2 separate regions of the Homo sapiens genome follow, and region 2 is linked to region 1. Evidence: fine-mapped expression QTL. Tissue or cell type: whole blood. Region 1 holds a variant in brackets; the other region holds the start of a gene. All regions are shown on one strand. Distances are from middle to middle.

Region 1 (4,187 bases):
GAGTGAGTTTCTTAATCCTGAGTTCTAGTTTGATTGCACTGTGGTCTGAGAGACAGTTTGTTATAATTTGTGTTCTTTTACATTTGATGAGGAGTGCTTTACTTCCAACTATGTGGTCAATTTTGGAATAGGTGTGGTGCTGAAAAGAATGTATATTCTGTTGATTTGGGGTGGAGAGTTCTGTAGATGTCTATTAGGTCCGCTTGGTGCAGAGCTGAGTTCAATTCCTGGATATCCTTATTAACTTTCTGTCTCATTGATCTGTCTAATGTTGACAGTGGGATGTTAAAGTCTCCCATTATTATTGTGTGGGAGTCTAAGTCTCTTTGTAAGTCACTAAGGACTTGCTTTATGAATCTGGGTGCTCCTGTATTGGGTGCATATATATTTAGGATAGTTAGTTCTTCTTGTTGAATTGATCCCTTTACCATTATGTAATGGCCTTCTTTGTCTCTTTTGATCTTTGTTGGTTTAATGTCTGTTTTATCAGAGACTAGGATTGCAACCCCTGCCTTTTTTTGTTTTCCATTTGCTTGGTAGATCTTCCTCCATCCCTTTATTTTGAGCCTGTGTGTGTCTCTGCACGTGAGATGAGTTTCCTGAATATAGCACACTGATGGGTCTTGGCTCTTTATCCAATTTGCCAGTCTGTGCCTTTTAATTGGAGCGTTTAGCCCATTTACATTTAAGGTTAGTATTGTTATATGTGAATTTGATCCTGTCATTATGATGTTAGCTGGTTATTTTGCTCGTTAGTTGATGCAGTTTCTTCCTAGCCTTGATGGTCTTTACAATTTGGCAAGTTTTTGCAGTGGCTGGTGCCGGTTGTTCCTTTCCATGTTTAGTGCTTCCTTCAGGAGCTCTTTTAGGGCAGCTCTGGTGGTGACAAAATCTCTCAGCATTTGCTTGTCTGTAAAGTATTTTATTTCTCCTTCACTTATGAAGCTTAGTTTGGCTGGATATGAAATTCTGGGTTGAAAACTGTTTTCTTTAAGAATGTTGAATATTGACCCCCACTCTCTTCTGGCTTGTAGAGTTTCTGCAGAGAGATCAGCTGTTAGTCTGATGGGCTTCCCTTTGTGGGTAACCCAACCTTTCTCTCTGGCTGTCCTTAACATTTTTTCCTTCATTTCAACTTTGATGAATCTGACAGTCATGTGGCTTGGAGTTGCTCTTCTCAAGGAGTATCTTTTTGGCGTTCTCTGTATTTCCTGAATTTGAATGTTGGCCTGCCTTGCTAGATTGGGGAAGTTCTCCTGGATAATATCCTGCAGAGTGTTTTCCAACTTGGTTCCATTCTCCCCATCACTTTCAGGTACACCATTTAGATGTAGATTTGGTCTTTTCACATAGTCCCATATTTCTTGGAGGCTTTGTTCATTTCTTTTTATTCTTTTTTCTCTAAACTTCTCTTCATGCTTCATTTCATTCATTTTGTCTTCCATCGCTGATACCCTTTCTTCCAGTTGATCGCATTGGTTACTGAGGCTTGTGCATTAGTCACGTAGTTCTCGTGCCATGGTTTTCAGCTCCATCAGGTCCTTTAAGGACTTCTCTGCATTGGTTATTCTAGTTATCCATTCATCTATTTTTTTTTCAAAGTTTTTAACTTCTTTGCCATTGGTTCGAACTTCCTCCTTTAGCTCAGAGTAGTTTGATCTTCTGAAGCCTTCCTGTCTCAACTCGTCAAAGTCATTCTCCGTCCAGCTTTGTTCCATTGCTGGGGAGGAGCTGCGTTCCTTTGGAGGTGGAGAGGTGCTCTGATTTTTAGAGTTTCTGGTTTTTCTGCTTTGTTTTTTTCCCCATCTTTGTGGTTTTATCTACCTTTAGTCTTTGATGATGGTGATGTACAGATGGGTTTTTGGTGTGTATGTCCTTTCTGTTTGTTAGTTTTCCTTCTAACAGTCAGGACCCTCAGCTGCAGGTCTGTTGGAGTTTACTGGAGGTCCACTCCAGACCCTGTTTGCCTGGGTATCAGCAGCAGTGGCTGCAGAACAGCGGATATTGGTGAACCGCAAATGCTGCTGCCTGATTGTTCCTCTGGAAGTTTTGTCTCAGAGGAGTACCCAACTGTGTGAGGTGTCAGTCCGCCCTTACTGGGGGGTGCCTCCCAGTTAGGCTACTTGGGGGTCAGGGACCCACTTGAGGAGGCAGTCTGCCCATTCTCAGATCTCAAGCTGTGTGCTGGGAGAACCACTACTCTCTTCAAAGCTGTCAGACAGGGACATTTAAGTCTGCAGAGGTTATTGCTGTCTTTTGTTTGTCTGCGCCCTTCCCCCAGAGGTGGAGCCTACAGAGGCAGGCAGGCCTCCTTGAGCTGTGGTGGGCTCCACCCAGTTCGAGCTTCC[C/T]GGCTTTGTTTACCTACTCAAGCCTGAGCAATGGCAGGCGCCCCTCCCTCAGCCTTGCTGCCGCCTTGCAGTTTGATCTCAGACTGCTGTGCTAGCAATGAGTGAGGCTCCGTGGGCATAGGACCCTCCGAGCCAGGTGTGGGGTATAATCTCCTGGTGTGTCGTTTGTTAAGCCTGTTGGAAAGACGCAGTATTAGGGTGGGAGTGACCCAATTTTCCAGGTGCCATCTGTCACCCCTTTCTTTGACTAGGAAAGAGAATTCCCTGACCCCTTGCGCTTCCCGGGTGAGGCAATGCCTTGCCCTGCTTCGGCTCATGCACAGTGTGCTGTACCCACTGTCCTGCGCCCACTGTCTGGCACTCCCCAGTGAGATGAACCCAGTACCTCAATTGGAAATGCAGAAATCACCCATCTTCTGCGTCACTGATGCTGGGAGCTGTAGACTGGAGCTGTTCCTATTTGGCCATCTTGGCTCCACCCCCTGTTTTTTTTTTTTTTTTTTTTTTTTTTTTTTTAAGACGGAGTCTCACTCTGTCTCTATGCTGGAGTGCATTGCATGATCTCAGCTCACTGCAACCTCCAACTCCCTGGTTCAAGTGATTCTCCTGTCTCAGCCTCCTGAGCAGCTGGAATTACAGGCACACACCACTACACCCAGCTAATTTTTGTATTTTTAGTAGAGATGGGGTTTCACCATGTTGGCTGGGATGGTCTCCATCTTCTGATCTTGTGATCCACCCACCTCGGCCTCCCAAAGTGCTGGGATTACAGGTGTGAGCCACCGCACCTGGCCATCTGTTGTATTTTTATTGTTAGGCACAGTTATGTTATTCTAGTTAATGTTATGTCCTCTCTTCACCCATCTCCCTCATGTTCTGCCAACATCTGGTCTTACAAGTCTCTCCGTTCAAGTCTCTCTTTTTCCATCTCACAAATGCATAAAAATAGTCTATGAAGCAAGTGATAAAAGCTGAGAACATATCAAGAGTTTTCTTTAATTTACAGTCATTTGATTATAGTGAGGTTAAAAGTTTTTTATAAGTTAATTGGGCATTTGTATTTGCTTTATTTTTTCTTGCCCCCCCCCCCCCACATCCCTCCCTGTGTGTGTGTGTGTGTGTGTGTGTGTGTGTGTTTGGTAAATTTTTTATTTGTATCTTTTCCCATTGCTGTGGGTACCTACTTTTCTGGGTGATTTACATAGAGTTAAATTTTTGAGATTTTGGCTTCATGCTTTTTGTCTTTGGTGAAATACTTTGAAAGTCCTCTTATTTATCAATATTATATAAATATTTATAACTCTTATTTAAATAATTTTACATATTAAAAAAATGATATCTTTAAAGATCATCTAGAGTTCAGGTTATAAAATGTAAGCCAGGGTTCTAGTGTGATATTTTTTTCCTAAATGGTTAGCTAGGAGTTTGATTGCCATTGGTGGAAACCTTTTCCCTCCCAAAATATCTTTTGAAGAATAAGCAAAATTATACTGCCCCCTTGATTTGGCTGCCTATCTTGGAAACAGGCAAACACTCTTTCTGTTCTTATTAACTTAGTTTTAAAATTCATTTTAATTTCTTTTATTGCATGGCTTCTCTCCTTTCATTTCTACTGTTTTCTGCTCCCTTCCCCATAATGGCTCATTTAGTCTTATATGTTTTTTCCTATAGGAAATTTTAGAAGATTTTTTTTAAGTCTCCCATGATATTCCATTATATTTTGATTGAAATTTCATTACCTTTATGGGGAAAAAACAGATTCCAAAAATAAGGTAAGAAAGAAAATAATACCAGAGTAGAAATTTGGAGTCATACAGAACCAAATGGTAGAGGACAAAA
Region 2 (4,187 bases), 830 kb after region 1:
TATTCATTTTATTTTATGACTCATAGGGCTATTTCAAGGTCCATGAAGACAGGAAATATATTTTTCAAATCATTGTATCTTCATATCCAGTGTCTGGCACATAGTAGGTTTCAATAAATATTTGCTCTGGATTAGTTCAAGGTAATAAAAATCACATTTTCTGGGAAAACTCCCTGACGTTCAGGAAAAGTCATTCCCTCCTCCATGCTCCCTTGAGGCCTTGATATTCTAATTGCCACATTGTTACACAATGACATTATTTGTTTCCCAGTCTTTCTGCCGGGCTAGACCCTGCGCTCTTGGGTGGCAGAGACCAGATCTTACTCATATTGGATCCCTAACACTCAGCACAGAGCCCGGCTTATAGTAAGCCTTCATAGATTTCCTGGAATTGAAAATATAATTCTAAAGCAACCACATGAGGTGAGCAGGGCGGGTATTATGCTTCTCATCTTACAGATGAAGAAACAGGGATCTAGGGAGAAAAAACAAGGTCTTCACCCAATTTCCATTTGAAATCAGAGACCCAGCCAGGGCTAGCACACAGGTGTCCCAACCCCTAATTATTACAAAGCTCTCTTGGCCACTGCATAGAGGAGGCTAGGCACCTCTCTTTCTGACTCAACAGCAGGGGTTGCTTCGAGACTGTTCCTAACACAGGCCAAGTGTCTTCCTGGGGTAAGACTGGATTAGGGGACCCTGCTCGGTCAGTGGTCCTGGTGATCGCCTAGGGAAATAGATCTATTCTGCTGGGATCTGGGACTGAATCCTAGGCAGGTTTGTGGGGAGTAGGATGGTGAGAGGTGCTGGAAGGCACGGGTCCACTTCTTAACCTTCCTTTTAACTCTGTGCTGCTGGGTGGAAGCTTTATAGTCAATGTCCTCTCCATCTCTGGCCACATTCCCAGGACTCCTGATCATTAGAGTGACTGTTGTCCCAAGTGGACATAATTATAAATAGCTCCCTTCTTTTACTGAAAGTGTCCTACAGTGGACAATAATTTAGTCCCCTCCTCCAGTGGAAAATATACTACACGCATGCAAAAGCTCAGAGGGCTCCAGGAGTCGTCCCAACTCCCCTTTCTCAGTTCCTTGGGATTTTTTTTTTTAAGTTTGTCCTCTACTAGATCGCTTCTCATTCACCAGGATATCTTAGATCAAGGCTGGCGTTTGAAGCCTCTGCCTGAGTTCAAGCCCCTTGCTTCCGGTGTTCCTGTCCAAGCCCGCGGACTGGAATCTCCCAAGGAAGTTACGAATAATTCGGGGGGGGTGGCGAAATGGGGGGTGGAGTGGGGCGTGAAACTGCAGCCTTCACCTGGCTAACAGAAGAGGACTCAGGACGCCCAGCACCCTGGATAGGACCCAACAGCGCTCCCTGGAGGTGTGGGTGCAAAGTTTTGTCTAGCTTGGCCTCCAAGGCCCTCCAGGCAATGCACTGGGAAGGGAAGAATTAGTGATTAAATTTGACCTGAATCAAAAGATGCCTTCAGTTCCTCTTCTGCTGAAAACACTAGAAATACAAGCCCAGGATGTGGGGATCGGGGGCAAGCGGTGACACCAACTAAAAGGAAGCAATGGATTTCCTTTTAAATGGAGAGGAGGATGTCGGAGAGATACCATGAAACGAATTCTCGAAACTCCAGGCAGCAATACCGATGAAAGCGCATTCTTCCAAAACAGAGCTCCTCATTCAGGGCCACATCTGAGCCTGGGGGCCCAATGCTCAGAGCGTGCCTGGCTTTCTGGGGAAAAGCGCCAGGAACATGAACGAGCTACGAAGAGCTGGAGCGGGCGCTGCGGGAGCAGCGTGTGGGGAACGGCTCGGGAGTCGCTGCTGGTAACCCCGGCCCAGCCGCCCGCAGCTGGGCTCGCAGCCGGCTCGCAGCCGACACCCAGGGTGCTGCGCCCGGGGCCCCGGGCCGCGGAAGGATATTTCACTTTGTTTACCTCCCCGGCCGGGCGAGGGAGCTGCGAGGCCGGTGCTGGCGCCCCCGGCACGGAGCTGCAATGGCAGCGGCGCGGGGAGCCGCCCGAGGACTGGCAGCGGCGGGGCTGATTGATGGGCGCCCGGCGCAATGAGGGGGGCCCGGGCGGGGGCGGGGCGGGGCCGGCTCTGGGCTGAGCCAGTCGCGGGGGCGGCGGGGGGGGGGCGGAGGCTCCGTGGAAATGTGTCGGTGACATTGAATGGGGAGACCGAGCGCGAGCGAGGCGCGCGCGCGCACACGCGCACTCACGGCCCCGCTCGCTCCGAGATCCCCGGCCACGTAAGTAACTATTAATACCGCCTCGCCGGGGGATGCGGGCGTGCTGAGCGCGGGGATTGGCCTCGGGCACCGTCGGCCGTCCCCTTTAATTTTTAAATACACGGTCCCCTCTTTTCTCTGGGGGGGGCAAGCAAGAAATCAAAGAAGGAGGAGACAAGCCGTCAATTTTCTCCAAAACAAACCCCACCGGGCAATTTGGTCTCGGGGTAGGGGGAGACGGGGTGATTGCAAATTATTCCAGGACGAGATCCAGTTCTCCAGCGGGAAAGGGGCAAAGGAACGCCGCGCGTTGGAAGGGCCAGGGACGCAGCTCCCCTTGCAGCGCCCGCAGGACCCCCGCAAGCTCGTGCCGGCGAAATCGGAGACCGCCGATCTGTCCTCGTTCTCTCCTGCACGTCTGGCTGCATTCGGAGGAAGACCTGGGGCGCGAGCGAGCGGCGACAGCATGAGCCTGTGCTGACCTCCGCGCGGCGGGCCGAGCCCAGGGCTTTGTCGCGGTACCTGCGCCCAGCCCGCGCCGCAACTCTGTGCCCAGCTTTTGCAATCTTTTGTTGGCAGCGCTGACCGCACCAAGTTAAATGCTCCCTTGCAATTTTTCTTTTTTTTGTTTGTTTGTTTAATTTTTGGAGAGCTCGCGATCTTGGAAAAGCCTCAGACGCCATCTACAGTTAAAACGTAGGTAACTGCCCTCTCCCGCACCCCCCCCTTACACGCCCCCCACCCTTTCCACCAAAAAAAGGGGGTGCAGCGCGGATTCTGGCTGCCGTGCGTCGCCAGCCGGTAGACCCGTGCTTGTTTCCTTTCTCTTTTTGTTTGGCTTCTAACGCGTTGGGACTGAGTCGCCGCCGTGAGCTCCCCGAAGACTGCACAAACTACCGCGGGCTCCTCCGCCCCGTCTGCGATTCGGAAGCCGGCCTGGGGGTCGCGTCGGGAGCCCTGGCGCTGCAGCTCCGCACCTTAGCAGCCCGGGTACTCATCCAGATCCACGCCGGGGACACACACACAGAGTAACTAAAAGTGCGGCGATTCTGCACATCGCCGACTGCTTTGGGGTAACAAAAAGACCCGAGTTGCCTGCCGACCGAGGACCCCCGGGAGCCGGGCTCGGAGCAGACGAGGTATCCGGCGGCGCCCATTTGGGGGCTTCTAACTCTTTCTCCACGCAGCCCCTCTTCTGTCCCCTCCCCTCTCGCTCCCTTTTAAAATCAGTGGCACCGAGGCGCCTGCAGCCGCACTCGCCAGCGACTCATCTCTCCAGCGGGTTTTTTTTTGTTTGTCGTGTGCGATCCTCACACTCATGAACATACACAGGTCTACCCCCATCACAATAGCGAGATATGGGAGATCGCGGAACAAAACCCAGGATTTCGAAGAGTTGTCGTCTATAAGGTCCGCGGAGCCCAGCCAGAGTTTCAGCCCGAACCTCGGCTCCCCGAGCCCGCCCGAGACTCCGAACTTGTCGCATTGCGTTTCTTGTATCGGGAAATACTTATTGTTGGAACCTCTGGAGGGAGACCACGTTTTTCGTGCCGTGCATCTGCACAGCGGAGAGGAGCTGGTGTGCAAGGTAAAGGGCCAGTGGGTTGCTTTTTGTCTTTGGAAGGGGCCCGAGGGAGCGGGAGGGCGCCAGGCCCTCGAGTCTGGGAGAGGGAGATTCGCGGGATAATTACCGTGGCCTTATTAAATGGGTTTATTTATTTATTTGCTCAGGTTCGGTAAGTTGCGAAGTTTTTAGACCGTTTCAGACAATGGGGCGGGCGGCAGTGGGGGCGTTTCGGGGAGAGCCCGGGGAGGAGAGGGCGGCGGGACTGCGCGGGGGCCACGGACACGCGTGCACCGAAGGCTCCAGGAGCTCTCTGCGCGAGGCCGGGTCCCGCTGCCCGGGGGGGATTTCTTCCTGTGTCTAGCCCCCTCCCCTTCCAAC

The links. PIP is the estimated chance that this variant, and not a neighbour inherited with it, causes the effect.
Region 2: TRIB2 starts here. The variant in region 1 is fine-mapped to the expression of TRIB2 in whole blood (TOPMed, PIP 0.94).

The regions. Positions count from the first base shown.
Region 1 is chr2:11,884,773-11,888,959 of GRCh38, forward strand. No RefSeq gene overlaps it. Among named protein-coding and RNA genes, the nearest start is that of MIR4262, 50 kb to the left of the region's middle. The variant C/T (reference allele first, on the strand shown) is at 2,349.
Region 2 is chr2:12,714,748-12,718,934 of GRCh38, forward strand. It overlaps TRIB2 (tribbles pseudokinase 2), which reads left to right and starts at 2,189. Exons shown (of 3, transcript NM_021643.4): 1 at 2,189-3,830. The coding sequence starts at 3,561. It overlaps LOC124905974 (a long non-coding RNA gene), which reads right to left and starts at 2,011. Exons shown (of 2, transcript XR_007086222.1): 1 at 1-2,011. RefSeq lists silencers at 1,777-1,996, 2,087-2,146 and enhancers at 2,099-2,738, 2,587-2,656, 4,018-4,187.